2 linked regions of the Homo sapiens genome follow. The protein of the gene in region 1 interacts with the protein of each later gene in a biochemical or structural test. Each region holds a gene or a part of one and is shown on either strand. Other genes may lie near its edges. The genes, in order: SRGAP2 and ROBO1.

Region 1 (15,376 bases):
GGATGCTATAGGCAGCCCCCACCTCGGCCCCACCCACAGACTAAATGCCACTTCTTGCCACCTCCCTTTTTGATGAGTTCTGAGTGGCAAGGGACTATTCTGAAAGATATTGACAACATTAATTGTGATACTAATCTCTAAGAAAGGACTTTTTATAAAGTTGCATCTAGAAGTGATCTTTATTCATCAACAGTGTCTCTTGGGCTTCTACTCTGTGCTCTGTATTCTGAGAAAAACCATCCTGGGTCCCAGGGAATTCCCTTCCTTTTGGGAAGAGTTTAGATAAAAGGCATAATTTCCTGACCGTGAGTTTGTAAGCTGGCACTTCAGAATGATTTTAGAAATTTGTGAAGAGAAAGAAGGGTAAGCCTTGTTTTTGGCAGGTTAGGGACTGTCCTCCCCTGAAGCAGCATTCCATTCTGTGGGGCCAGGTTTTCCATGACCTAGCTTCGGAACAGAGATCTAAAAGGAATCCCTGGGATATATGTTTGCTAGACCCCTCTGTTTGACAAAGAACAAATCACTATTTCTATTTTATGGATGAAGTAGCTGCAACCCAGAAAGGCCAGTGACAGTATTTTAGGCCACTCTAGTGATGGGAATTTAACCCCAATCTCATCTCTTTGTACAGGGTACAGTCCGTTACCCCATGCCACCCGCCATGGTACCATTTACAGCGTCGTTTTTTCACTAAACACAAAGACAACTGCCTCTCTCTTTTAATCCCTAACGTCCCTTACCTCCCCCTCCTCCTCCCCCTCCCTTCTTCCCCTAAATAGTATTTCAGCCTGAGCTGAAAGCACAAGCCAGCCCAAATCGGATTCTGTCTGAATTCAACATCTGGAACCAATTCGGCCAGCCCCATTGCTATCGACTGAGGTAGGGGAGGACAGGGGAGGTTGTTTACTTAATTAGAGGCCAATTGGTCCACGCTTCTCCCTGACCCCCACAGAACAGCCTCTTGCCCAAGGAGTGAAGAAAGTGGCATTTGTGTTCTGTGAACTTAGTAATACCAGTGACATCCCTGGGTTCATCCCTCTCTGCTGTACTGCAGATTTCAGTGTCTGGGTCCAAGCTGGAGGAACCTATGCTGGCCAGCTGGGAGAGAAAGCTTTTTGTCACCGACAGATGGTTGGTGGTGACTGGGGAGGTTGTTGGTCACTTTAGGTCTCAGCCTACTGGATGATGAGCTCCAGGGAGCTGTCCTTGTGCATGTGACTTAGAGCTTTGGTTTTCCCCCTTGCATGCGTGGTGAAAAGCTGTAGAATAGCATTCCCTTCCTTCTAAAGTCAGGCAGAACCTCCGCCCTCACTTCTCAAACATCAAACCACTGCAGGCTCTGGTCCAGTGCCCGGGGCACAGAGACCCCTACAGCCCTGGCCCCTGAGTCCCAGCCCAGTGGGTCAGAGTCCTGGAGGGGTGTGGCTCACGGGGACAGGTGCCTTCCTCCAGTTTCCTCCAAGATAGTCTCCCAACCTACCCACCTGTTTCTTGTGCACTCAACATTTATTAGCAGCCTCTGGAAAAACCACAAGATTAGTCAGGGAACATTACTACCGCAGACTGTGTGGGAGGCTAGAAGCACCTGAGGAACAAGAGTCAGCAACCTTGGGTTGAGAGGGACCTTCTAACCGCTGGATTCACACCCACCTGGAAGGCTCATGGCCTCTCCTCTCCCTTCTTTGGGAAGTGAGAGAAGTGCCAGCCCCGGGAGCTAAGGCAGTAAGGAGGTGAGTGAGGGTGGTAGAAGGGGAGATAGAGCACTAAGAAGAGAATGGAGAATGATCAGGAGACCCAAACAGCCATGGAAAGGAGAGCACCAGGCCACATGGCCTCCCCACAGCTGTGGAGAGGAGAGACAAATCCATTTCACCACACTTTCCAGTCCTGAAACTGGAACCGGTTTTCTAGGACTACCGGCTGGGTGGCATGGTGGACTGCTCCTGAGACCTCAGGTATTTTTGGGTCTGGTGGGTGCACAAGAGCAAAGGCTGGGGATGGAGTGTGTTTCAAGAGAAGCATAGGATTTTAGGGCTAGAAGAGACCTCAGAAAGCATCCTCTTGCCTTTCTCATAAAGCAGTGGTTTTCAAAGTGAGGTCCCTGGACCAACAGCATCTGTGTCACAAAGGACTGGTTAGAAATGCACGTTATTTGGCTCCACCCAGACCCAGTGACACAGGAACTCTGAAGATGGGGCGCTGTTTTTTAACAAGCCTTCCATGGCTCGCTGAAGTTTAGAACTGTTGCCTTACTGGCTGGCTGTGTAAATAAACTTGAAGCCCTGAGGGAAAGTTTGCCTTTGAACCTCTCCCCCGCCACCCCCACCATCTCAAAGGTTTCCAGAACATTACAAAATTCATCAGATTCATCAGATGGTTTTTAGCCCTAGAAAACAGTGAGAAATTGTGCCTACATTTTTTGACAAAGAGGAATCTCCGTTTATATTCTTCTAGAATGTTCTCTGGAGCCTGGGAAACCTCCTTGGAAGTGACTTGCTCTACACAGGATGAGTTCTGAACTGGTCACCCAGTCTTTGAGGAACTTCCCAGGAGTGTAGGATCCATCCCATGGGGAAAGAGGCTTGAGGGTTCCAAGGTGGAAACTGTGCGGCCAGGCTGCCAGGCTGAGTGGGTGATGGTGCTTTCACACAACTGCCTGGAAAGCCTCACCTGTTACTGCCTACTACCAGAGGAAGAACTTTAGAAATGAACAGTTTCTCTACTTTTCAGGAAGTAAGAACTTCCTGGTGCCCATCCTCATGAGTTCTGAAGTCCATGAGCCAGGAGATCAGGAATAGAAATGACTTTCCTAGTAACCTCTCTATCATTTCTCGATTCCTTACACTGGATGATTTTTTTTTTTTTTTTTTTTTTTTAGACAGGATCTTGCTCTGTCACCCAGGCCAGAGTGCAGTGGCACGATCATGGCTCACTGCAGCCTCGACTTCCCAGGCTTAACCAATCCTCCCACCTCAGCCTCCAGAGTAGCTAGAACCACAGCATGCACACTGGCTTTTTTTTTTTTTTTCTTTTTTTGTAGAGACAGGGTCTCATTAAGTTGCCCAGGCTGGTCCCAAACTCCTAGACTCAAATGATCCTCCCAAAGTGCTGGGATTACAGGTGTGAGCCATTGTGCCTGACCTACCCTGAATGATTTTAAATTTCATGAATTATTTCAAGAACTTGACCCAGCTTCTCTCCCCTGCCCTCCAACCCGTAATTGGATCCTGCCCTGTAGCCCATAGCAGATTATTCCTCCCCTACTTTTGTTTCCCACCCTCTCCTATGACTCACCTTCCACTTTTTCACCAGTTCACAGTCTGAACTGCAAAGCAACCTAGAGGCATCAAGCAAAATGAGAAAGAAGGAAAGCAAGTACTATTTATTAAACACCCACTCTGTGCCAAACTTGTGACTAAATTACTTTATTAAATCCTCACACAGCTGAGGATATAGATCTTTATCTTCAGTATATAGATGAGGCAGCTGAGGCTTAAGGAGATTAAATAACTTGCCCAGGATCACACAGCTACCAAGTATCAGAGCTGGTTTTCGAATCCAGTTTTATCTGATGCCGAAACCCAGTGTTTCCCTTCCACCCTGCTTCCCCTTTGAAAACCAGGAATGAATTCACATAGAGAATCAGACCTTGAGGAGTTGAGTTGTTCTCTATTTTCTAAAGAATTTAGTTTATACCTTCAAAAGGGCTTCCCTTTGTCTTGAGATATTCTAAGTTCCAAGTAGTCTCAAGTGGTTTTTGTAGCAGGAGCTAGACTGGAAAAACTCTAGAGCTTTGTATTTCATTATAAGCATTTGTCTATTGTGTGCAGTTAGGATATAGAGAGCATAAGATGGATTCAGTGCCCTCGCGCCAGGGAGGCTGTATGAAGGGGAAGACAAGAATTTTATGAGCACATGTTAATGTCCCTGTCACTCTTGCTTCTGTTGCAGTGATAGCCCTCATGGAGAGACTACCTCGGTTGAAGACTCAACCCAGGATGTGACCGCAGAGCACCACACGAGCGATGACGGTACGAGGCCCTGCTTCCTGGTCAGTGGGGACGCCAGGGGTGAGGCAGAAGGAAGTGATTATATATCCTGTGCATCTGATGAACCTGTCTGCCCAGCGGTCCCCTGAGGGCAGGCAGAGAGCTCCCTGTCTCAATTTCATTCCCTTCCTTCCTTGGAGAGGTAGCCCACCTTCTCAAATAGAATCGCTCGTATTAAACCAGAGGTGAAGAACTAGGCCTTTCATAGCCCTTCAACCTTCTTGCTCCACCTCCCAGCTCCTTGTCTGGCCTGAGTGCAGCATGATGTTGGTCCCTTATCATAGCCTAGACTCCTGCCAGACAGCTGGAGAACAAAGTGAAGGAAAGTACATTTGAAAAACAGTAAGCAATTGGGTGTGGTGGCTCACACCTGTAATCCCAGCACTGGGAGGCCCAGGCGGGAGGATCACTTGAGTTCAAGAATTCAAGACCAGCCTAGGCAACACAGCCAGACCCTGTCTCTTAAAAAAAAAAAAAAAATAGCCTGGCATGGTGGTGTGCAGCATCCCTGTAGTGCCAGCTACTTGGGAGGCTGCGGTAGGAAGATCCCTTAAGCCCAGGAGTTCAAGGCTGCAACAAGCTATGATTGTACTACAGTACTCCAGCCTGGGTGAGAGAGTGAGACCCTGTCTAAAAAAAAAAAAAAAAAAAAAAAAGTAAGCCTGGGGTGGGAAATAGCAGAGCTGGTTGCCCGGAACCCAATAGAAGCAAGCCAGAGGGAGTGGGAATGAGGATGCAGAAACCACATGCTTTCACGCCTACCGACTGGAAAAACTGACCCTTTCCAAAGTACAGACATGCGAGTGCCGAGCAGCGTGGTGGGCGTGCATCAAGGGGAGGAATGCTCAGCTGTCATCCTCAGGCCCCTCAGCAGTGCCCATGCTTTATGAGGGTCTGTCCAGCCAGCACATTTCCCCCGCTTCCAACAGCTCCACACCTCCTCTGGATCACATGGGCTCTGGAAGTCTCAGCAGCTGACAAGGGGCCTCAGAATTTTCTGGGCACAAGAATGAAATGGCAACAGTCTGTGGAGTTTTCCCTGTTCCCTGCCTTGCTGGGAATTCTGCAATTCTAGGCCAGCTTTCAAAGGAGAAAAAAAAAAAATAGGACTGCTTATTTAGATCCTGATGTCATAAGGATCCATATGATCATTTGCTACATTCGAGGAGGGGAGTAGGTGAACTAGGAAAATGAGTAGTGGGTTAGAGCCTACCTCGTGGCCAGCTCTGCTAGAGGCTTTATATATGTTATCTCTTAATCTGTAGTGAAAAAGATATGGCCGCTATTTTACAGTTGAGAAAATGCAGGTCAGGGAGGTCGAGTAACGTACCCGAGGCTGTAGAGAACTAACTGAGGTGGGTATATTTAGACAGGCCTTCTCTGACCAGCCTCCTATAGTGAAATCTCCAACCCCTCCTGTGCAGGAGCAGACCCACCAGCTAGGGCCATCTAGGCATGGTCTTATTTTTAAGCAGCCTTTCTCTCTGCTTCCCAGAATAGCCGACTTTCATCTCAGGTTCCAGCTTTCTGGGAGCCTTCTCTTTGCTCTTTGATCTCTACCTGCAGCCTAGCACAGACGAAGATAATGATAACAATAAGTCATGCACACATACCACTTACTATGGGCGGGACACTGTTCTAAGCACTTTTACAAATTGTAATTCATTGACTCTTCATAACAACTTCATGAAAAAGACACGATTATTAATCTCCATGTTACAGATGAGGAGACAGAAGCCCACACAAAAATAAAGATAGATTGCATTCGTAGACCCCTTTTACTTTTTTAGATTACTTTCATGTGCATTTTTTTCATAGGTTGGTCACAAAATATATTTTCATATTTTGCTCCTTGGAAAGTTGATTGAGCAAGTTATTTTCTCTTTATAGAGAGACAGAAAGCTCACATTCTACTTACTAGGGGGAATGGATAACATAAAATATTTAGAATACATGTATGTATTCTAAAAAATGTATGATACATTTTCTACAATTACTGGAATTATTATATAATTAGAAAAGAAATAATGCTTAAAAATATAGTATGGCAAGTTTGATGATAGACGTCAAGGCATGAAGATCTTTGGAAACACCAAAGAAGTTACTGTAGAAAGCAGGGGATGCGGTCGGGCGCGTGGCTCACGCCTGTAATCCCAGCACTTTGGGAGGCCGAGGCAGGCAGATCACGAGGTCAGGAGATCAAGACCATCCTGGCTAACATGGTGAAACCCCGTCTATTAATAATACAAAAAATTAGCTGGGCGTGGTGGCACACGTCTGTAGTCCCAGCTACTTGGGAGGCTGAGGCAGGAGAATCGCGTAAACCCGGGAGGCAGAGGTTGCAGTGAGCCAAGATCGAGCCACTGCACTCCAGCCTGAGCGACAGAGTAAGACTCCATCCCAAAAAAAAAAAAAAAAAAAAAAAATGGGATGCTTGAGTTGTGTTTTGATGTGCTTCATCAGGCAGATAAGAGAGAAGAAGATTCCTGGTGGAGGGAACAGTGTGAGCAAAGGCAGGTAAAAGGTGATACCAGTGCTTTCAGGATAATGGTATAGTCTGCGTGAGAATTACTTGCTTTATAGATCATCCATGGCTTCGTTTTCCCACTAAGTAATTTCCTACCACTGTAAGTTCAGCTAATTCAGCTTTTCCACCCAGTTTCCTGAGTCTGCAGGTCCCAAGAACATGTGTTTACTTCTTTTCCACCCTTCTCAGAATGTGAGCCCATCGAGGCCATTGCCAAGTTTGACTACGTGGGCCGGACAGCCCGAGAGCTATCCTTTAAGAAGGGAGCATCCCTGCTGCTTTACCAGCGGGCTTCCGACGACTGGTGGGAAGGCCGGCACAATGGCATCGACGGACTCATCCCCCATCAGTACATCGTGGTCCAAGACACGTACGTTGGGCCCATGGCATCTTTGGGGGTGGTCCCCAGCTGCTCTATGGGAGTGAGACTTCATTTCTGGAGCCATAGGACTATGAGGGAGGCCAACCCCTGGGGGGTCCAGTGCAGTCCTGAGGCTCACACAGTTCCTTGAAGAGCACCCCCCCCACCCCCCGCCCCACTCCCTGCACTCAGTGGAGAATTTTTTTAAATCTCTCCACTATCTGTGCCCCCTGCAAATCACCCCCTAATCCAGTCATTTTAGAAACCTGCCAGCCAGCCAGCACTCATCCATATTTATACCTGATGAGTGATAACAAGGGGTTTTTATTTGACCACCTATATTTCTTTTCTCGAAAGATCAGGCTGGGAAAACATTTTTGTTACTCTCTTTTTTTTTTAAACAACTATGCTCACCCCAACCTGTTGAGCCACTCTTCCACTTGCAAATTAAAATGACTGGTTTTCTAGGAGAAATCCGGCTTAAGCAGCCTTATGGAAGTGACCTAGTTCATTTAACCGAGATGAGGTTGATATAGGGTAAGATGGGGGAAGGAGGGAAAAGGATGTCAAGGAACAAAGGAAACCTGAACTGGTCCCAGAGAGATCTCATCTGATAGGCTGTTGGTTGATTCTCACACTTTGAAGCAGTTGTCCCGTGGGCCCACCCAAGCCTGCCCCCTGTCCGTTTGCCCTGTCTCTGTCCCCAGCTCCCCTCCCTTGGATACGATGCTGTCAGTGTTTTTAGTCCTTCCCTTAATATTATTTTTTAAAGGTTGATATCCTGAGTGAGTCTGCACCCTCCCAGCCTCTTCCCGGCTCGTTCTGCAGGGAAATCCTCCCTCTGTTGATAGCATCGCAAACCTGGTGGCAATCTGTGCGTGGACAGGACCCTCCCAAATTTAGCATTATGACTTCACCACAGGATCAAGAGAAGATGAATTGTGGGGGAGAAGGGGCTTTCTTTGTCATCAGTAGCCAGAGGGGCCAGGAGAGCAGTGGAGAGACCTGGGACCGGCTTGGATGCTCTGAGCGGGGCTAGAGGCGCTACGACAGTGTGTGGCGGTGTCCTGCCACGACGCCGCCGTCTCCAGAGCCACCACACAGTTGACTGTCCTTACCCGGCAGTGCTCAGGACCTCAGCCGATAAACCACAACCTGGACTTGCCGCCTCCTTCTCCAGGAGGCCGCCCCAGCACGGCCTCCCCAGGAAGCAGCATGGGGTAGAAGGCAGATGCCTCGAATCCAGGTGTCCCCTAGCCACGCTTTCCTGAGGAGCTGAGGAGCCCGCAGAACTCAGCGGATTATTTATTTTTATTTAAACGACCCTTCAAAGGCCCTTAGGTTTCCTTGCCTCTGCTCACAGAACTAGTCCAGCCAGGTGTCGCTGCTGCCTCAGAGCTGTGTGGGGTCGCGTGTATGTCGGGGGGCCATCTTGCCGATTTAACGCTGCTTTTTGTGTTGTTGTTGTTTTCCCTCCTCCCTGCCTGCCTGCCCCTTCTCCCCCAGCGAGGACGGTGTCGTGGAGAGGTCCAGCCCCAAGTCTGAGATTGAGGTCATTTCTGAGCCACCTGAAGAAAAGGTGACAGCCAGAGCGGGGGCCAGCTGTCCCAGTGGGGGTCATGTAGCCGATATTTATCTTGCAAACATCAACAAGTAAGCTCTGCTTTTCATTTTCTGCTCCCCTGAATGACTTGCAACACCCAGCCTCACCCTCTGGCCTAACCCCCATCTCCATTCCTGTGCTGCACGTAGGGCTCCCAGCTCCCCCAGCCTAACAGTTTGCATGTGGTCATTGCTGCTGCAAGGCGGACAGGGCTGAGGATGCTGCTACAAGCCTCGGGGCAGGTCCAGGTCTCCAGCTAGCTGCCCTCGTGCTGTGGAAGGGTGCTTTACTGTGTGTTCCCGCAGTGTCTGTCCACCCAGACCTTTGTGGCAGTCTTACAGCTAAAACTTTGACCAAAGCTTTGGTCACTTTATGCAACCTGGTTTTGTACTGTTTCTCAGAGGTGCCTTCTTTTTTCCAATCCATACTCAAATAATAGTCTTTGATGTCTGTCTTCCTTGACCCGTGTTCGTGCAAAGATTCAGAGTCTGTGTGTGGCTTCTACTAGGCTGATGTTACACCAGGTGGGTTTATTGAGATATCATGTGTCTGTTCCTCCCCCTGTCCTGCATTCACTCCTGTGGAGGAAAGGAGGCCACGATGTCCCTAAGGAAAGCTTTGTCCTGAGCTCTTCATTCATTGGCTAACCCCTAGCTCCCTTTTCTTCTGCCCTTTCACACCAGGAGAAATAATTTTCCATTTTGTTCCTATTGCTTTGGCCTTTTGTATTATTCTACCCCCTTAGTCCCTTTGCAGATCCCCACTCCTGCTCAGCAGGCTCTTACCTCTGACCCCCAGCTTTCATTGTGGCTGTTAGCAACATCCTGGGGTTTAAACTCCACCCACGCCCGATCTGGCTGTCTAGAGGGATTCTACGCCTGCGTGCTGCCGCCTCCCCAAGAGGCATTCAGGTTATTGGAGAACTAATCTCATCTCAAGGGGCCAGACACCAAGTCCCAAAGCCTACAGACCTCTTTCCGCCAGGCCCTGAAACCTGGCCCCGTGCCAGCAGGATGACAAGCCCCAGGGCGCTCCTGATGAATATGGATTGGAGATGATGTACAGTTTTTATTCCCCTCTGGCTTTTGAGGAATGAAATGATTTGCACTTTGAAAACCTGTTAACCGTAGCCTCTGGACACTGAGACTGGAAGGAGAATAAAGGATGCTTGTTGTTTTTAAACTATACCAGGTTTCCCAGATCTCTTGGCTTTTTTCCACCCAGACGGTAGCAGGGGGAGTGGTTGGGGCACGTGGCTCTTTTCCATCTCTTTCACCCTCAAGTTAGTAAAGTCGTTTATTCAGATCACTTACTCAGTGTAGTTATAATTTAATTCAGACCAGTTAAAAAAAAATTGAGAAGTTTCTGTTTCCCTCCAGCACACTGCCCTGCTGGGAGGGCAAGCCAATATCAAGTAACTGTGGGCTAATCACATTTTTTTCCTTATTTACAATTCTGTGTTAAATTGTAACCCTACAATCAAAAGGTCGTGATCCTATAATTAACTCAGAAACCAAGGCGGGGTTGGTGGAGGAAGAGTTAGATAATTAGTTAAGTACATATTTTTAAGCCATCATATATTTGATGCCATTTGTGCATAGAAATTGTAGAGAGTAATAACTGAAATGGTAAACAGAAGAAGAAAAAAAAAGAGTATCTGTAGACAGTTAAGGTGGTTCCCTTGAACTCCTTGTTTGCTGGTGTCAGGAGTCTTGGGATGGGGTTCTTGGAGGACAAGCCTCATCACCTGGTGGGTGGGTGAGCGGTGGCCCCGGGGCATGTCTGGCCCTTAGAAGTGAGTCGGCCTTTGAGTCTTACCTCCTGCCCCCCACGCCACTCCTCCTCCCAAATTCCTTGAGTTTCCCGAGTGCCCAGGTTCTCTTTCGCCCCTGGGCGCTCACGCCTGCTGTCTCCTCACCTGGTCACCTCCTCATCTCCCTTCAAGACTCAGTCCGAAGACTTAGCTCTTTGGGGAAGCCATTCTGACATCCCTGACTTCCCCAGGCTGAGTGAGGTGCCCTTATGCTGCATTCCAAAGACACTTTGAATACCTTTTGGTACTCACGCTTCACTCAGATCCCCCACCAGATTGAGCTCCTTGAACCCAGGAACTATATCTTCCTTTTCTTTACATCCCCAGGGCCTAGCCTGGGACATGGCACACCACAGCCACCCCATAAATCTGTCTTCTCAGCAGTTTCAGCCCATGAGTCAGCTATCCTCAAGCAGAAAAAGGAAATCAGCAAAGAGCTATTAGGGTGTGGCACTTCCATTTAATTCTACACATTTATTAAGTATCTACTGTTGTGCCAAGCACTGCTGGTGTTTATTCAGAGATAAAAAAGACGAGGTCCCTGATCTCAGAGCTCACAGTCTGGCAAGGTAAAGACCCTATGGACAGGTAACTGACAGGTAGCATCAGATGCTCTGAAGGTACAGAGGAGGGAGGGGTCCATTCTTCCTGCAACTGGAGTTAGTGGTGCAGTGGTGCCAGTGCAGTTGGAGTTAGTGGTGCCAGGGAAATCCTTGCAGAGAGGGGGTTCATTTCAGCAGGGCCTTAGAAGACTCTGAGAACATCCTTTTTCCACTCGAGAGCGGCTGAGTCACAAGCCTAAAACTGCCGAGTGGACAGACTCACGGAGTGACTGATACATGCCAGGTCCTGGGCCAGGCCCTGCAGGCAGAAAGATGAGGAAGACCTCAGCAGTGAACAGGACTAGGACTGGCTTAGAGCACTGTCCCCACCTCACAGACCAGCTCCTTATCTTCAGAGTCTAACCCCTTCCCTCCTTCCACCTCAACTCCTGCCTCAGCCCCCATCTCTCTTAGATTCAAGATCAGAGCTGTTCAGCAGCCATCCAAATCAGAAGTTTCATTGCCTCTTAGATTAGACCTTTTCAGATCTGATTCCAAGACAAAATGAAATTATCCAGCAGCAGGCAACACCCATGTAACTGGGATTCTGCCAAGCCATTTTGTCTGAGAGCCCTAAGTGGTCTGAAACAAATTCGCCCAGATCCAGGGTTCAGCCCAGTGCTGGGTGACTTGGGAGTCATGTAGAGGTATTTCCACACTAAGAAAACGCACAAACTGGGCCCCAACTCTGCAGTGTTGCTGCCTCTTGAAAACTATTCTGCTCCATGCCTACAGAATAAGCAACAACAGCCTCTTGCCAGAGCCCAAAACAGTTACAGTCTTTTTGGAAAAAGAGTCATGCTAAAATTTAGAAAAGTTAACTATCCTCTTACCAGCAATCTTGACCTCTTTGGTGATGGTGAGACTTCTTCTCCTAGCTGGGGCCTTAGGTTTCTGTTCATGGCAGGTCACAGAAGGGGCCTTTCCATGAATCTCTTTCCCATTAGAAACCTTCGCTTAATCAGACATTTTTTCTGACAGCAACTTACATCTTGACAACACAAAGCCCGTGACCACCAAGTAAGTATCCATTTCTCCTTCACCCAGCTTGGGGGTGGCAAGGGAATGAAGACATGGAGAATGCAAGAGAAGATGAAGCCGAGGAGAGAACGAGTTCTGTGTCCCTCTCCTTCCGAAGTCCCTGGGTGCCAACATCTGCCCCCTCCCACTTATCCTAGCTTCCTTGGAGCCAGGGCTCCCTGATCACACTGCCCTTTCTGTTTGTGATTGAAGGCAAAGGAAGCGTCCAGAATCTGGGAGCATCCGGAAAACTTTTCGGAGTGACAGCCATGGGCTGAGCAGTTCCCTGACTGACTCCTCCTCCCCAGGGGTGGGGGCTAGCTGCCGCCCATCCTCCCAGCCCATCATGAGCCAGAGCCTCCCCAAAGAAGGGCCAGATAAGTGTTCCATCAGTGGGCACGGGAGCCTCAACTCCATCAGCCGCCACTCATCCCTGAAGAATCGGCTGGATAGTCCACAGATCCGGAAGACTGCCACAGCGGGAAGGTCAAAAAGCTTCAATAACCATCGGCCCATGGACCCTGAGGTCATTGCTCAGGTAACTGTGGGCTCCTGGACAGACAGCATGAGTCTACATTCATCACTACCACTTAGTGCCACCCACCTAATTATGACAGGACTTGAAACAGAATGATTATTTTGTATGTGATATACTGAGTATATGTCCACTCTGGACATGTGGACCCAATAAGACAGCTTAATAAGTGGTCTGCCTGTCCCTCTCTCCCCAGGAAGAACCTAAAGACAGAATAAAAGAAGCCTAGCTTCTTGCTCATACACTGGCTATTAGGAAGGCTGTTGTAATTTTTAAAGCCGGTATTAAGAGTATTTTGAAAGCCCAAGTTTTGAGTCTAAAGACCTTGGTAGACTTTAGTGAAACTGCCCGACTGTTGAGGATCAGGTGTAATCCTGGCCACATGTTTATATTGCTGTGCCCATCACCATCATCCCGATTCCTAAGGCTAGTCTCTGGTACCGAATGGGTAGATGATCAATTAAGAACCTGCACCTGGTTTTAAAGACCTAAAAAATACTCTGGCTGCAGAGAGCTCTGGTAACCAAAAGGATTTGCAGCCCAAGCCTCCAGAGGCTATGGAGATGAGCTCCCTGGTTGCAGGGTCTTCCTTCTGTGTATGCACCGCACTGATGACTCTCTGTTTTCCATGAAATATTAGAGATCCAACCCCACCTCTAAAAATCCGACTACCGGGGCCACTCCAAGCAGTTCACTCAGACGTCTCTCCCAACTATATAATTTTCATTAGACCAGGTAGGAACTAAGGGCTTATTGTTGCCTTCTTATCTCAACTGAGTTGAGATTCTCCTTACCCCATCTTCCAGGGGGTGATAGAGGCTGGGCATGGTCTCTCTTGGCTTAATTGTGGTTCTCTGCTTACGGAGATGTACCTGGCAAGCCCAGTATTGAGCTACAGGCCTGAGATGTCTTGCTTTGCTAGCCTTCTATTCTGTGCCTCTATTTAAGCTCTTGGCTGCAATCTGCCTTGCGCTACGGGAATCCTCCCAGCTCCCTCCTTGGCCAGGTGTTAATAGGAATGTCAGGAAAGGTAGACAGCTGGGACAGACTAGCTGTAGAGTGCGACTGAGGAGGGAGATGGAGTTCTTCCTGAGCATTTTAAAGGTTTGAGAATGTCATAGGGATGAGTGAAACTGAATCACTGTGAACAGAAAGCATGCATCGGTCTGTACGACAAAGAAACCTTAACCAAAGGCCTTCGCTTGGAATGTGTAAAATCTTTCCATGTGAACCTAATCCCAAGAAGAAATCCTGTGGTAGTTTGGGGGTGCCAGACACAGGTTTATGGGGAGGGAGCGGGGAGCTGGGAAGTCTCACTGGAAGGCAGCTGGCTTGCATACAAAGGTTCTTTGGTTCTGCCTTGAGTCCCTGGGCTAGGACTGCTGTTGGCTAAAGATCTAGAGTGTTCCATTGATTTGCAGGCAATTGATTCACCTATGTGGGCTTTGGCTCCCCTTCCTGGTCATTCTTTTGTCCCCTTGGTGGTGATGGCTGGAAGGAAATGGTTTCAAATTGGACACTGCCCTGAGTTGGGGAGGAGGGGCGGGGGGAGGCGTATTGGGCTCCTGAAACTTTCCTCAGCCCCTGAGGAGGAAGGACTAACCCTCTTCACCTTTGGCCTTGAAGTCCAAGAGAATAAAGATCATACATCATCTCTACCACTTTTTAAAAAAGTGTTTATTATGTACAATTTCAAACCTACCCAAAAGCAGACAGAACTGGATAACAAATCCCCATGTACTCATCACCAAACTCCTGGCCATTCTTACTTTGTCCGTGTTTCTCTTCCCCACTAGATTATATGTCACTTCGTCGATAAGTATTTCAATATCTATCTCTAAAACCTAGGGTCTCTAAAAAAATATCAATTACTTTTTCTAAAGGAAAAAAAAAAATCTCATGACAGTGAAAATCCCTCCGTCCCCCTTTCCCTACTTCCTGAGCATTCATATGTTCAAAGATTTAGGCCAAGTACAATAATCTGGACATCTTACGGTCATTTTCTTCATGCCTTGGCCTGTGTTGTTGAAACCGGCTCCTTGGGGAATTCTCCCCTCATTTGCCTCACCTCCTCCTTTTTCCTGTTTTGCAGGATATTGAGGCAACAATGAACTCGGCCCTGAATGAGCTACGGGAACTAGAACGGCAGAGCAGTGTCAAACACACCCCTGACGTGGTTCTGGACACCTTGGAGCCCCTCAAAACCTCCCCAGTGGTGGCCCCCACGTCAGAGCCCTCCAGCCCTCTGCACACCCAGCTCCTCAAGGACCCCGAGCCCGCCTTCCAGCGCAGCGCCAGTACTGCTGGGGACATCGCCTGCGCCTTCCGGCCTGTCAAGTCTGTCAAGATGGCTGCCCCGGTCAAACCACCAGCCACACGGCCCAAGCCCACTGTCTTCCCCAAAACAAATGCCACTAGCCCTGGTGTCAACTCATCAACTTCCCCACAGTCTACTGACAAGTCTTGTACTGTCTGAGGGATAATAATTTAATTGTTCTAGACAAGGGGACTATAGGGACTGACTGTTATTAAAATCTTCCTATTTAACTAGCTTGGGGACTTCAGTTGAAAATTAGGTTCTAAGTTGTTCTTGCAGGAATTAGCCTCCCCGTCTCCCAAAACCTTGAGAATGAAGCCCTTGGTATCGCCTCTCCCTTCCCACTGCCCTCTGCTTCCCCCAGTCGTCGTAATTCAGCCAGCTGCAGTCCGTACCGTTCTTAGGTTAGCCAGAGACAGGTTTTCATTATCAGGTCACTGTGAAATCTGGTAAGGCAGTCCTGAGGACATGGGCTCAAGTCTCAGTCCCCTCAGACCACGGTGATGCCTTGACCAGATGGTTGGCTACTGCCATCCAGCTTTCAGTGGC
Region 2 (15,376 bases), on another chromosome or scaffold:
GGCTGCAGAACAGTGGATTTTCATGAACCTCGAATGCTGCTGTCTGATTGTTCCTCTGGAAGTTTTGTCTCAGAGGAGTACCCGGCCCTGTGAGGTGTCAGTCTGCCCCTACTTGGGGGTGCCTCCCAGTTAGGCTGCTCGGGGGTCAGGGGTCAGGGACCCACTTGAGGAGGCAGTCTGCCCTTTCTCAGATCTCCAGCTGCGTGCTGGGAGAACCACTGCTCTCTTCAAAGCTGTCAGACAGGTACATTTAAGTCTGCAGAGGTTACTGCTGTCTTTTTGTTTGTCTATGCCCTGCCCCCAGAGGTGGAGCCTACAGAGGCAGGCAGGCCTCCTTGAGCTGTGGTGGGCTCCACCCAGTTCGAGCTTCCAGGTGGCTTTGTTTACCTAATCAAACAACTAACTCGGCAATGGCAGGCCCCCCTCCCCCAGCCTCGCTGCCGCCTTGCAGTTTGATCTCAGACTGCTGTGCTAACAATTAGCGAGACTCCGTGGGTGTAGGACCCTCCGAGCCAAGTGCGGGATATAATCTCCTGGTGCGCCGTTTTTTAAGCCCATTGGAAAAGCACAGTATTAGGGTGGGAGTGACCCGATTTTCCAGGTGCCGTCTGTCACCCCTTTCTTTGACTAGGAAAGGGAACTCCCTGACCCCTTGCGCTTCCCGAGTGAGGCAATGCCTCGCCCTGCTTCGGCTCGCGAACTGTGTGCTCCACCCACTGACCGGCGCCCTCTATCTGGCACTCCCTAGTGAGATGAACCCGGTACCTCAGATAGAAATGCAGAAATCACCCATCTTCTGCGTCGCTCACGCTGGGAGCTGTAGACTGGAGCTGTTCCTATTCGGCCATCTTGGCTGCCAGCTGATTTTTTTTTTTTTTAATGAGTGGATGAAACAAAGAAAAAAGGAAAAAGAACTAGCTTTTGGTTAAGTGAGTATTGAGCACTAGGATTGTCTCTCTCAAAAGCTCAAACTCTTACCTCTGTATATGATACGTATTATACATGTACTGGCTCCAATAAGCTAGTATGACCTAAAATATTTTTATAATGTCTTAAGTACATTACAGCCATTAAATAATGATTGTGAAAGCCATATAGTGAATTCAATAATGACTACTATAACCAATATATAGAGACATTAGAACATAGAGTGATACACACATTAATAATTGCAACTTTGTAAAGCAACTTATATATAGGTATACATAAAAAAAGATTTTAGAAACCTATGCTAAAGTAGTCTCAAATATCTCCAATTTTTATAATTATAATTTAAAGCAAAGGTTTTCATGTGCCAACTGACATGACGTTATCACAAATTGCTTGTATTTGTGAGACTAGATCACGCATAGACCTTTTATTAAACTATAAAAAACAAAAACAAAATCTCTAAATATCTGTGAATTTGGGATTCTTCCCTACTAGCCAGTTCAACACTAAATGTCCTGTTTCACCCTGCAAACTCTGGGCGTTTTAAGGTGATTTCGTGTTTGCTGTTTTGGCACTGTTTTTTAAGTTTTGTTTGCTTTATTTTGGAGCTTATTGATATTGTGAAAACAATTTAACACTGTGGTCTCATTCTTCATGGGTAAAACTAGAATTATTGCAAGTGCTGGAAATACCGGTATTTATACATTAGCAAGTCCAGAGGATGGCTAGTAGGCAGAGTACTTTGGGGATACTATTCGTCTTTAGCTTCTTGACCTTCTTTACTGTTTGCAAACAGAACAAAGACAAAGGCAGAATCAAACATGAAGCACAGAAGTAGCAGCTGCCTTTAAAATGTTGTGTTGACTGTAGCTGTGACCTATCCCTAATAGCATTTGACTTAGAAACATACAAATTCATGTCTTCTATTTAACTGAACATCTTTCTTCTCTTTACTATAATATCAGAAGGTAAGAAAACAAAGTTAATGATTACTACATAATGTATAAAATTTAAAATCATTCGTATTCATCTCACAAAATTTATAGATACATAGTGCAAAGAGTGTTATATTTTATACAGAAAAAAGATTTGCCAGTTACTACTTGATTTGGACAAGTCACTTGAACTTCTAGAGTTTCAGTTCCCTGATTTCTAAAATGGAATAATAATATTTTATAGCCAAATTTATAATTTCCAAGATACAATATTTGCAGTTTGTAAATGGATGACAATTATGCTCTTTATCTGCGATGTTTATTGGTGTATAATGTGACTTTTTGTACGTGAACTAATCAATGTGTGTATATTCTGTTCTTTTTCTCTTAAAATTATTTCCTAAATATATTTATGTATATTAACATAGACTTCATGATCGCTATTTTTGAGGTGACAAATTACAACATTCTGATTATATACCCTTATTTTGGACGGGTTTTGAAGTCTTTCACTAAATGTGGGGAAAAGATAGCTAAACTTTTATAACCCTGCTGTAATATATGTGTGTATATATATATATATATATATATATATATATATATATATATATAAAATATATGTAACCTAGCTGTAATATATATATATTTATATATATTATATATTATTTTATATATTTTATATATTTATATTATATATATATTTTTATAACAGGTAGTGTAACCTTGCTGTAATATATATATATATATTTATAACAGGTGGTGTAACCCTGCTGTAATATATATTACAGCACCTGTTATACCTGTTACACTGCTTATACCATCACTACCTCCACCACTATTATTTTTATACTGACAATAATGAGCTACAGTGACTAATAACAAGTTATAGGATAAGCTTACCTAGGGCCAGGCACTATACTAGAAACTTTTCACACATGAACAATTTCAAATCTAACCATATCTCATTTTACCAGTGAAGAAACTGAGGCAGTGAATGTGAAGATGTGTACCCAACTTACAATGATAAGTAGCAGAACTGACATGTTTGCACCCTCCAATAAGGTAGCTACTTACCATATGGGGCTATTTAAATTTGAATTTAAATTACTTAAAATTAAATACAATTGCATATCCAATTCCCCAATTACTCTAGCTACACTTACATGTTCAGTAGTCACTTGGTGCTGTTGGCTACTGTATTGGAGAGAGTAGATATGGAACATTTCTGTTGTAGATATGGAACATTTCTGTTGTATGGTGCTAACATTTTCTGACTCCAAAGTCCGTGCATTTAATCACTTTGTTAAACATTTCTGATTCTTACACTTCCTATTTTATTTCTGGATAATTCATTCTAATAATTCCAACAGAAGATCCTAGACCTGAATATAAGGTTTGTCTCCTTCTAAATTAAGATTTGACTCATAAATGCAGTACATTCTTTGGTGTCTGTAAGTGTAAACATTTTACGAGTATTTTATTCTACTTCATGACATCAAAAACTTTCATTTCTCTACCTGGAAACATCAAATTGCTTTAATAAACCCTTAAATATTTCTCTTTTTTTTTTTTTTTTTTTTGAGACAGGGTCTCACTCTGTCACCCAGGCTGGAGTGCGGTGGCCTGATCAAAGTCCACCACTGCAGACCTAACCTCCTGGGCTCATGTGATCCTCCCACCTCAGTCTGTCAAGTTGCTGGGACTACAGGTGCACACCACCATGGCCGGCTAATTTATTTTTATTTTTATTTTTATTTTTGTGGAGATGGGGTTTTGCCATGTTACCCAGGTGGGTTTTGAACTCTTAGGCTTAAGCAATCCACCTTACTTGGCCACCCAAAGTGCAGGATTACAGGCGTGAGCCCCAGTGCCCGGCCAAATCTTTCATCTCTGATTTACATAATAGTTTTTTTTGTTGTTGTTGTTGTTTTTACCAAAGAGGACACTAGTGATACTACAGTACATAATATGTCTAGCCTTTTGCAATTAGCCAAGCACTCCCTTATCTGTTCCATTTAAATATGCATAACAATACCCTGCCTGAGCTATTTAGAAAAAAATATTATTATGCTTAGTTGATGGATTTAAAAACAATACAAAACTGAGGCTTAGAGAATTTAAGGAACTTGCCCAAAGACATATGGCAGATGCTAGAGCTGATCTTTTTCTTTTATTGCTTTATTTTTGTTAAGTATACATTGTAAATTATACCACAAAAATGGCATCAATAACTGGTTTGGGATGGAATGGGGAGGTGTGGATGACACTAAATAAAATACAAATATCAAAGAACCATAAAGATAGAGAACATTGAATATATTCCCAGATATTGGATTGTTTCTAAATATGATAAGACTACCAAATTTAAACCATTCTTCTACTGGACTTAATTATAATCAGTTATAAAGAATATTCCTTCTGCCAAGTTTCAAACTCTAGCCTTCTAATTCACCCCTTGATATTGCAAATTTCACCCTGGTAACCAAGACAAAGAAGAGAATTGGAAGAGTAGAGTGGAAATGCACAGCTGCTGATTTCACTCCATTGCTTTCCTGTTTATCTTTTCTTTTTTTTTTTTTAGTTTGCATGCACAAAACTAATATTTATTGCATGACAAATGAGGAGCAAATTGAAGTGTGACTCCAGCTTGTGAAAATCTTTGGTGCATAAAGCTTGGAACATGACAGATCCAGCTTTGAAAATTATTGCTTCCAAAATTTAGTTACTCTGACAACCACTTTTCTTTAACCAGGCAACTTAGAATCTTTCTTTGTACATTTGTGTCTTTTAAAAATTTTTCATTAACATCCAGAATTTTCAAGTTGAATATTTAAAGAAAATTTCTGAAATTTGGTTTTTAAGTCATTAAAAAAAAACTATAGAGTTTCATATAAATTGCCTAAGTCAGGGGATGGGAACACCTCTTCAATGTAGGATTTATTCTAGTTCCAACACAGTTGTTCTATGTTTTCCCCTAAAAAAGACTTCATGTCAGATAAAGTTTTTAGATTTTAGATTTTTTTCATGTAATCATAGGGTTAATTGTATTTACACATAATAAAATTGCCTCTCGTTGTTATTTTCCGTAGTATGTTATAACTATTATCTAAGGTAACGGAGTTAGCAGAGGCACATTCCCAATCCCATTAATCCCAATAGAGAAGTATGGTGTTTGCCAAGTTAGAACATCATTTTGACTTGTCTCTTTGGATCAGCCAAACAACAATGTATTTGGGCAATTTTCCAATTTCTTTGAATTCATTACAGTTGGGTAATTTTCTCCCATGTATATTGTAATAGAAAGAATTACAAGATAAAAAGACACAGGGAACTCAATCACACTGATTTATTAAATTACGAAATCCAATGCACTTTTTTGGATCCAAAATTGTTAAACATGCTGGTATGGTACCTTGTTTCTTTTTTTCTGTTGTACAAGTTATGAAATGTCAATTTGGCTTTGCTTCATTTATTAAAATTTATCTCATATGTTTCCTTGAGAGGAATGGTCTTTTTGTTATGTTGTGTTTTTTCATGTTTTTGAGTTTAAAAAGTACAGTATTCCATGATCACGTCTCTGTATCTACTTCACCATCCACAATCCTAATTCCCGAACTCTTTAAATAGGCCTCTTGACGATGCAGCCAGCTCAGTGAGTGGCTGGTCATTTGAAAGTAGCACATTGTGTCTCATTTTAGTATTCTGAATCAGTGCATCATATAAATGCATTTTGAATAATGCATGTCTGCTACTTTAATTACTTGTTTAATTATCTTTAGTTTGTTTCAAAGCCTAGAACAACTGCTGTTGCTTGGATGATTAGAAAATTGCTTCCAGTTGCAGAAATCTATTTCCTGTTGTTTCTTCTGGCAGTGATTGCAGATCGGCCTCCCCCAGTTATTCGACAAGGTCCTGTGAATCAGACTGTAGCCGTGGATGGCACTTTCGTCCTCAGCTGTGTGGCCACAGGCAGTCCAGTGCCCACCATTCTGTGGAGAAAGGATGGAGTCCTCGTTTCAACCCAAGACTCTCGAATCAAACAGTTGGAGAATGGAGTACTGCAGATCCGATATGCTAAGGTAACTTGGAATGGCACCTTGCGTTTCTTGTTTTGTTTCACTTTGTTTCTGCCTCCAACAACTGGCATTGAAATTTCTAACTTTGCAATTAATGAAGTGTTAAATGAAGAGTAGTAATATATTTTTAATTTGATGTTTTATTTTTTTCAGATATTTCATTGTATATGTTTGAGATGATTTAACTCATAATTTAGTCCATGGCAGGTAATTTAAGGTTGTATGGAGGAGAAGAAAGGATTTCTAAGAACCTACCGAGGAAAGTAAATGAGGGTTTGTGAGAGAATAAATATCTTCAAAGTAGTGGTACGAAGCAGTCCTTCCATAAAGCATCTTTTAAGATATTTACCTGTATCATTTTATGTGCAATATATTTAGATAGTTCTTCTATTGTAAGTGTTTGTTTCAGCATTTTGCAATGGCAAAACTATACATGCAAACAAAAGCCATAAAGCAATGTACACACCGAGTGTACAATTCAAATCAGAATGCTCAATGATGGAAAGCCCACAGGTCTGTAGGAACCATTTAAGGATTTACTTTCACAGGGCATCATATCCCATGCCTGCTCTTTCAGGACTTTATTGTTTTGATTTTTCTTCTTTTTTTATGTCAAGATCAGACGAGCTCCTGAGGCATATGAAAGAATAGTCCTGACAGCAATAAACATGAATTTCAGTTGCTTTATCTCCTAGTGTGGGTGGTTCCTTTGGAGTATTGGATCAGCATCACAGTTCACTTTAAGTGCCACAACAGTTAATATGTTGTGCTGCTTTGTGACTGTTGTGACTTGGTTCCTGCAATTGCCAGGGCAAGATGACAACATTCTTTCTTTATCAAATGTTACTTGAAGATAGTTATTAGCTTGAGCAGAAGTAGATGGGTTTATTATCCTGCTGCTGATTTCAAAGTTGAACATGTAACCTATGTTTGCCTTCTGACATTCAGTTTTTAAAAGGGAGCGAGAGTGTTCGTTCCAGCTTGAGTTTGGCTTTGTACTTCTTAAACTGCCTTAAGTTACAAGTTTTAAAACCCGGAAAAGTCAGTAGTTTAAGAAAAAAATTCTATGATGCCTATCCTTTTTCTGTTGATCTCATATATCCATATAGTTAAATATATAAGTAAAATATGAAATAGCAAGAATAGGCATTGGTTAAACTTTATCAGCCTTATTATATAACTTATTAAACATAAAGATATATCTTAGCCATAAATATTAACGCTCTAAATTTGAAGAATTGTATGCCTTACCTTAGGAATTATTGTCCCTGAGACTGATGATAATATATGCTAATGCAATTAAATATTTCTTATTATACCATTAGAACAATCATATAAAATCTTTTTTTCTATATTGATGTAATATTTTCCTTCACATTCAATAAAAATATATTCAACTAAGGGGAAGTTTCTGGTTAGTGAATTTTAATGCAGTTATCCATATTCATGGATCATATACAAACCTGTAATTGCTTTTCCAGCCCAGTGAGTTCTTGATTTTTCCAAATATTTATTTTTTGTCTGCCTTCTCAGCTGGGTGATACTGGTCGGTACACCTGCATTGCATCAACCCCCAGTGGTGAAGCAACATGGAGTGCTTACATTGAAGTTCAAGGTAAAGTAAATGGTGTGTTTCCCTTAAAGTGAAGCTTAAAATGCAGTTGTTTACTTACTGGGATATTGATGAAGTAAATGTCCTCTTCCCTGAGTAGGTGTATGAATATGTTATCTGCATTTATCCGCTTATCTGTGTATGTGTAAACATCTTTTATTTTGGCCTTTTTCCTGCTTTTTAGAATTTGGAGTTCCAGTTCAGCCTCCAAGACCTACTGACCCAAATTTAATCCCTAGTGCCCCATCAAAACCTGAAGTGACAGATGTCAGCAGAAATACAGTCACATTATCGTGGCAACCAAATTTGAATTCAGGAGCAACTCCAACATCTTATATTATAGAAGCCTTCAGGTAGAGTGAAGGAGATGCTTCCTAGTTGTTCTTTTTTGATTCTCCATTAAATACGCATGTTCTAACCTGTGTGTCTATCCTTAGCCATGCATCTGGTAGCAGCTGGCAGACCGTAGCAGAGAATGTGAAAACAGAAACATCTGCCATTAAAGGACTCAAACCTAATGCAATTTACCTTTTCCTTGTGAGGGCAGCTAATGCATATGGAATTAGTGATCCAAGCCAAATATCAGATCCAGTGAAAACACAAGGTAAATATTGATTTACTTAAACCTGTGACACCTACTTATCCTTAGATGTTATAATTGCACTGACAAATCACTTGTGCTACATGCTAGAATTGTACATTTACAGTGTGTTGTTCAAGTTGCCCAAGTTGCTTAATTAATTTTTAATATACAAACACAATGTCTACAAACTTTATTATTTTCTGGACTAAGCATACCAACATAAGATGGATTAACAAAGAGAACTGTTTCTCATAAAATTACAAATATATCAAGACAAAAATATTACGTGAGGAGATGGAAAGTAGAATGATGGTTACCAGAGGCTGGGAAGGGTAGTAGGGTGGCTGTGGGGAGGGTGGGGATGGTTAACGGGTACAAAAAAAAGAATAGTTAGATCTAATGAATAAGATCTAGTATTAGATAGCAACAAGGTGACTGCAGTCAATAATAATTTATTGTACATTTTTAAATAAAGTATAACTGGAATGTTTGTAACACAAACAAAGGATAAATGATTGAGGTGATAGATACCCCATTTACCCTGATGTGATTATTATGCCCTGTATGCCTATATCAAAATACCTCATGTACCCATAAATATATACACCTGTTAGTACCCATAAATTTTAAAAATATGTGAATATTTGTGTATTCTATTCAATTTCCTGAATTTTAAATATGGTAACATGTAGGTGTACAATCTTAATCATATTATAATTGTATTTAAAATTAACCAAATTTTATTTATTTATAAGTTCAGTACTCACAACCTTCTGGATGAATTTTTAGATTACAACCCTAATCAAATAATACTCTCTTGAGATCACATAAATATGAGAGATATCTGGATACCTTTTATTTTTGGAAAAAAATCACGTCATTGTAAATAAAATGTGCTTGTTTTTATATTAGTAAAGAAAGGTAATTCTAGAGGGGAGTGATTCGAACTATAAAATTATTTTCTCAACATACAGAGGGATAGTGTTTCTATCTTAAGGGAACAAAGGAAAAAAGAAAAAAAAATAGACTTGGTTATTTTAATAGAAACAAGTTATACACAAGATGACTGAGACTTAAAGTCCTTTGCTGCTGGTTTGGGAGAGGGGTCTGCCAGCCATGTTGCTGTTTTGTTACTTCAAGTATGTACAGAAACAGTCTTTTTGGAAGCACTTTTTGTTTCAGAATTTGCAGAAAAAGCACACCAAGTTGTAGAACATGCCCACGTTTGTCTCTTGTGTGAATGTAACACACCCATAGCTCATATTTGCTATTATGAATCACCTCTCCAGGAGCTTTACTATACTTGCAGCCTGCCTTAAGGCAGTCTGAGGTTTTTGATATTAGATACACATTTGTAAAGAATGTAGACCCAATGATAGCTATAAAATGAATTTAAACTTTTGTCCCCAGTACAGTGGTCTCCAGCCAGTAGACTCTAACTGAAAGGTTTTGATGACTAGAGCTTAACACCGTTTTGTCCTGTACTCACATGCATGATTCTGGAATATGTAACCTCATTTGTAAGTGAGCAGTAAGTTAGCATTCTGTCTGAACATTCATTTAGTCTTTTTAACATTTCTGTCAATTTGCCTTTGCATATGCATAGCTAGTGGAACAATGTATTAGTCTCTTCTCACGCTGCTAATAAAGAACTTCCCCGAGACTGGGCAGTTTATAAAGGAAAGAGGTTTAATTGACTCACAGTTCAGCATGGCTGGGGAAGCCTCAGAAAACTTACAATCATGGCAGAAGGGGAAAGAAACACGTCCCGGTTCACATGGTGGCAGCAAGAGGTGCCGAGCAAAAGTGAGCAAAGCCCCTTATAAAACCATCGGGTCTCCTGAGAACTCACTCACTATCACGAGAACAGCAGCACGGGGTAACTACTCCATGATTCAGTTACCTCCTACCGAGACCCTCCCGTGACACATGGGGATTAGGAGAACTACAGTTCAAGATGAGATTTGGGTGAGGACACAGCCAAACCACATCACTCTAAGTATAATGAATCCTTGTTAACTGGAATACTGGAAATATAGAGAAACAGGCATACAGTTGTGAAATCAAAGACTTTTTTTTTTTAAATTTCAGCTCCTCAATCCACTAGCTGTGTGACCTTGAGCAAGCTAGTCAGCCCTTCTGAGTTTCCTCACCTATAAAATGGGGCTAAACATACCCATTCCTCGGGATTGGACAAAGAATACATTAACCAATCAATATATAAGTATATAAGATTCAGATTTGTTTTCTGTTTTATCCCATAAAATCTGTTATTGGACTTGTATTTCTTTTAGTGTCAGGACTAAAAGTAAAGGAAGTTCATAAAATTTGTGGATGTCGTAAAACTGAGAAAGACAGCTAGTATGCCAAATAAGAGAATCAGAATTAAATATAACTCAACAGATTGGACTGATGGGAGAGTGCTAACTATTAAAGTTAATAGAGCAAATTAAAAAGTCTGGTACTTGAACTTGGGTTTAAAAAATTAGCTGTAAAAGGATAGACTAAAGACAGCAGGCTTACGGGAAGTATATGTGAGTGTGTCAGGGCTTTCGGAGTGATCTGACTTTAAAATAAAACACCCATCTGAACCGACTGACGGATACAGTTGCCAAGAGAACAAATGTAGTCTTAGCTGGCACTAGAATTATGCCTGGATCAAGTAATTTTTCTCTTTTTACTTAGAACTATTCAGTTCATGAATGGAGTAATGTGTTTGTTCTGGAGACTACATTTTCAGATGGACTTTTAAGAGGAGGACAGTAGGGATAGTCGATGAGGCCGCATGAAAGGCTGAAAATCACATCATATGAAAAGACATTCAAGGATCTAGGTATGATTAGGCCAGAAAATAATAACATCAGAGCAGACATGACATCTTTTCCTTAACATTTTAAGAGACTGCCGTATGGAAGAGTTATGCTTATTCTAGCTCGAGGCAACAGAAAAGGGCCCATGAGAAGAAGTAAAATTGAGGCACATATCTTGCCTATTCTTGGACTTCATTTGAGGCTGGAAGCCTTGGATTATAACTGTAATAAGAACCTGGGGAATCACCTGCAAAAATATTTCACTGGAGGGACCAGAAGGCAAACACAGCAAGGAGAAAAATGAGGGGTGAGGAAATTCAAGAAGGACTTGTTGGAAAGTGATTCATAAGGGAGCAGGCATAATTTCTCTAACCATTTCTGCAATGTGGTTGCAAAAGAATCTTCCCCAAGTGTAGATACTTAGAAATGAGCTGGGGTCAAAAGCTAAAGGTGCACAGATATAGGGCACAGGTTCCGAGTACAGGAGTCAGGTAGACCTATGTCATGGTTGGAGTTAGAGCCTTGTTATGTGGTAATCAAAGTGTGCTTTCCCAAAGACAAGATTTGATTATGCAAGGAAGATGAGATGAGCACCTGGCAGTTAGGGGTGGTGGTCATTGTGGCAGAGGTGCGGCTGTTGTTACCATTGTTAGTTACTATGATTCCTCACCCATGTGCCCTGTCTGTGTATCATTCTTGAGCCCTAGTTTTAAAAGAATCTATACAGATACATATCATACCTAAGATGATGTCAGTTATTATCAATGAGTGGGGCCTGGATAGGCTCCCCTCTGAGGTTGTGTATACGAAGTTTTAACGTTGGGGGAAACAGTTTGGCTGGAGCAATTAGGTCTTCTTTAAGTCTAATTCTGAATGTTGAGAAAGACCTTTTACATTGTCATACGTTTCTTTCAGGAGAAGGAGAACAAAAACAGTAACAGGATCAATTCATAAACTTCTCAAAATTATATTATCAGGTGTCACTTTCCCTTTTTCTCTCTGCTGTGAACATTTCTATTATAATGTTATAGACTGCTGTTGCTGTCATGGGTACTAGGTGGGAGAATCTAGCAATTTTCATGAAGGAACTGACTGGTAGGTTTATCTCAAATCAGAGGAATTTGGGATTGGGATGCAGATCATGGCAGTTATGTATAAAGTGGTTATTTCTGTATTTGAAGATACTTTCTGAAAGGGGGATGATTTTGTGAGGATGGGAGCTTACGTATGAGGGAAGTACTTGGAAACTGACATCATATGTGTGTTTTCCACACATGAATACATTTTAATTGAACCTATGTTTATTAAGCAACACCTATGTATATGGCACTATGCTATATACTATGGGTCCACAATCCCTGCTCTGAGGAAAAGCACTTTTTATGTCTTACCACAAGACAGCTTTTACCACAGCCCTCAGGATTAGCTGCCTTTGATGCCACCATCTGAAGCATAAGGAAACTGAAGAATAGTGAGATTAAGAAATTGTTCCAATGTTACGTGGTTTTTAAGTTGCCGAGGTGGGGTGCAAACCCAAGTCTGTTTCATTCCAAGTATTTCACTCTTATCCTAGAGATGGGTGACAGCTTGAGTCGTAGGAGCAATTGAGACCAGTGGGTAAGGAAGAGATGGAAAGGTGACAATCAAGTGTTTACTCCGTAGAGGCTGTGATAATAGTTATCCTGAGGGCAGGTCCTAACCAAAAATATTGGTAAAGGAAGATGAAGTATGGGATGCCAGAATTATCCCAGTTGTTTTTTTTTCATCTTGCTTATTTATCAGCTTAATTTCTAGGTTAAGTATAAAAACAACCAAACAATATGTAAGAGTGTTTGATATCAATCTCGATGTCATCTCTTCCACTTGCCTAGCTTCCCTGGACTTCATCCGAGATACTTAGCGATCTCATTCTTAGTATTCCTGCTTTTGCTTTCTACCCAAGATCAATTGTTTGACGGTATTTAATGATTCATTAAACTAAAATTCTCATTTTAATTTTTTTATGTAATGGGGAATCATCTGGAATGTAGGTGCCAAAATACAATTCTTTGAGAAAGAGAATTCTGAAGTCCAAAAAACATTTTCTTCACTTCCTCCCATGTATTCCCTGTTACTATTATAAACAAAGCAAAACATCTGTGTTTAGAAAACCGCTTCAGAAATGGGCAAATGTTTTTTTGAGTGTAGACTTTAAGAAGCTTATAAAAAAAAATTAACATTAGTAGCCACTTCATTCTTACTGTGTTCTTAGTTTCCTTCCTGAAATTTTGGGGCTTTTGAGATTAAGAACTCTTTATTAAACCTTCTTTACTATGATACAATAACTAAACTAAAGGATCATCAATTAAATAAACGTTAAGTACTTTTTTCTCATGAGTCTAATCAGCTTTATTTTATTTTACTTCCTTGCTGGCATCTGTATCACCTCCATTGTAGCCACTAACTTACCATATACCTTCCATGAGAAAATATCCAAGTTCATCTTAAAAGCTGTAAAGTATCTGCCTTCTTTCTGTTCTTGGTTTTCACTAACCATATCTCCTTTCTTTCCATTGCTTAGCCACTCTGCTACAATTTCAGTCTCTTTTCTGTCTTGCATAGTTAGGATCACTACAGAAGGTTTTCACAAACTCAGGGAATTGCCCTAGTGCCCTCATTTTCATCAGGAAAGTGATCGTTACATGATAGGAGGAGCCACTAAATGTTGTTATTTGCCATTGTTGTCTTTGCTTCCTGCTCTTTTTGCCTTTCTATAATATATGTCCTCTGCGTTCTCTCTACTCTCTCTATCCCCTCTTACTTTCCTGATCCTAATAAAAAGGTTAAATTATTCCTTTTTTTTTTTTTTTCCGAATCACAGCCTGGCTTGGACTCTTCTTTACTGAGAGTTGCTATGAATGAACAGTTTGTTTCACCATGCTTTCATTCCGTTCAGTAACGTTGTGCAGACCCTGACACAGTTTTCTTGACTTGTTGTAGATGTCCTACCAACAAGTCAGGGGGTGGACCACAAGCAGGTCCAGAGAGAGCTGGGAAATGCTGTTCTGCACCTCCACAACCCCACCGTCCTTTCTTCCTCTTCCATCGAAGTGCACTGGACAGTGAGTTGTTACAATATTTGATCTCAGTTTTAATAAGCGTCTGCGAGATCATTGCAATGCATATAAAATGTAACTATCTGTTGCCTACTTGTACATTAATGATAACTTTATAGTGTAAGCACTGTTTATTACAGTAGCTATTAGTTTGGTTTAAACAGAAAAACATTGCATCTTGAGCCTATTTTTTTCCTATTGTGCTGCAGTAGTGAACTTGACCTGTCTCAGGAAAGAAACAGATAGTATTAACTGTGTTATGTAACTTGTGATAGGATCATTATTACATGAATCTTTTAAACTTAGAAATATTTCCAAGTAGTATTAAGTAGGCTTTTAAAATCAGAAAATCATCAAACATTTTAGCTTCTCATCCCCTTGACCCAGGGATGTCCTACATGCAATGTCAGAGCTGCCATCAGGCCTCACATTTCTGCATGAAGCATAGAAGTTAATGCCACCGAAATTTTTATCAAAAGATAGTGGAATTTTTTCAGTATTCTACTTATTTGAATGTTTTAGCTGAAGATTCTTTTGGATTTTCTATGAGCACACTCATGTTGTCCACAAATAATGATTTTTATTTTTTCCTTTCTAATTCTTACACATTTCTTGTGTAAGAATGTGGGATGAAGCCAGACAGAATTTTGTGCATTTTATAACGTTTAATTTTTATTATTTTCTGATGAACCAATACAATAATATGAATAATTACATTTTACTTGTCTTTTTAATAGGTAGATCAACAGTCTCAGTATATACAAGGATATAAAATTCTCTATCGGCCATCTGGAGCCAACCACGGAGAATCAGACTGGTTAGTTTTTGAAGTGAGGACGCCAGCCAAAAACAGTGTGGTAATCCCTGATCTCAGAAAGGGAGTCAACTATGAAATTAAGGCTCGCCCTTTTTTTAATGAATTTCAAGGAGCAGATAGTGAAATCAAGTTTGCCAAAACCCTGGAAGAAGGCAAGTATGATGAAGCGTTTGATTTCCATGCATTGCAGTATATTTGTTAGAATTTTATTAGCTTAATTTAAATTGTTATAATGTTAATAGTGGCATTAATTACTAACTTTCTTGATATTGAACATACATTTTGCTAACAGTATTTGTTTATTTAGAAAACTAGAAAAGCAAAATGCTATAATAGTTGACTTGCTTCAATAGTGGCCTACCTCAAATGTGTAAATGTGAACATTATATTACTTAATGGCATATAGAAATTTAATTATTCAGAACTAAAATTCACATTTAAAAATGAAATTGTTTTCCGTTTGGTTTATTTTCCATTCAGCATTTTCTATTTGTTTATTTTGATCCATGATTTGAATA

The links.
Region 2: the proteins of SRGAP2 (region 1) and ROBO1 interact in a biophysical measurement, tested with the Homo sapiens proteins (one study listed by IntAct).

What each region holds. Positions count from the first base shown.
Region 1 is NC_000001.11:206,446,435-206,461,810, forward strand, and holds part of SRGAP2 (SLIT-ROBO Rho GTPase-activating protein 2), read left to right. Parts: intron 1-3,951; coding exon 3,952-4,031; intron 4,032-6,765; coding exon 6,766-6,946; intron 6,947-7,709; coding exon of another isoform or gene 7,710-7,722; exon of another isoform or gene 7,723-8,443; coding exon 8,444-8,590; exon of another isoform or gene 8,591-9,338; coding exon of another isoform or gene 9,339-9,357; exon of another isoform or gene 9,358-9,725; intron 9,726-11,936; coding exon of another isoform or gene 11,937-11,975; intron 11,976-12,188; coding exon 12,189-12,513; intron 12,514-13,150; coding exon of another isoform or gene 13,151-13,240; exon of another isoform or gene 13,241-13,245; intron 13,246-14,602; coding exon 14,603-14,986; 3' UTR 14,987-15,376. UniProt on the Homo sapiens protein: Postsynaptic RAC1 GTPase activating protein (GAP) that plays a key role in neuronal morphogenesis and migration mainly during development of the cerebral cortex. Regulates excitatory and inhibitory synapse maturation and density in cortical pyramidal neurons.
Region 2 is NC_000003.12:78,660,664-78,676,039, reverse strand, and holds part of ROBO1 (roundabout homolog 1 isoform a precursor), read left to right. Parts: intron 1-5,738; coding exon 5,739-5,944; intron 5,945-7,474; coding exon 7,475-7,556; intron 7,557-7,737; coding exon 7,738-7,906; intron 7,907-7,990; coding exon 7,991-8,157; intron 8,158-13,925; coding exon 13,926-14,047; intron 14,048-14,778; coding exon 14,779-15,010; intron 15,011-15,376. UniProt on the Homo sapiens protein: Receptor for SLIT1 and SLIT2 that mediates cellular responses to molecular guidance cues in cellular migration, including axonal navigation at the ventral midline of the neural tube and projection of axons to different regions during neuronal development.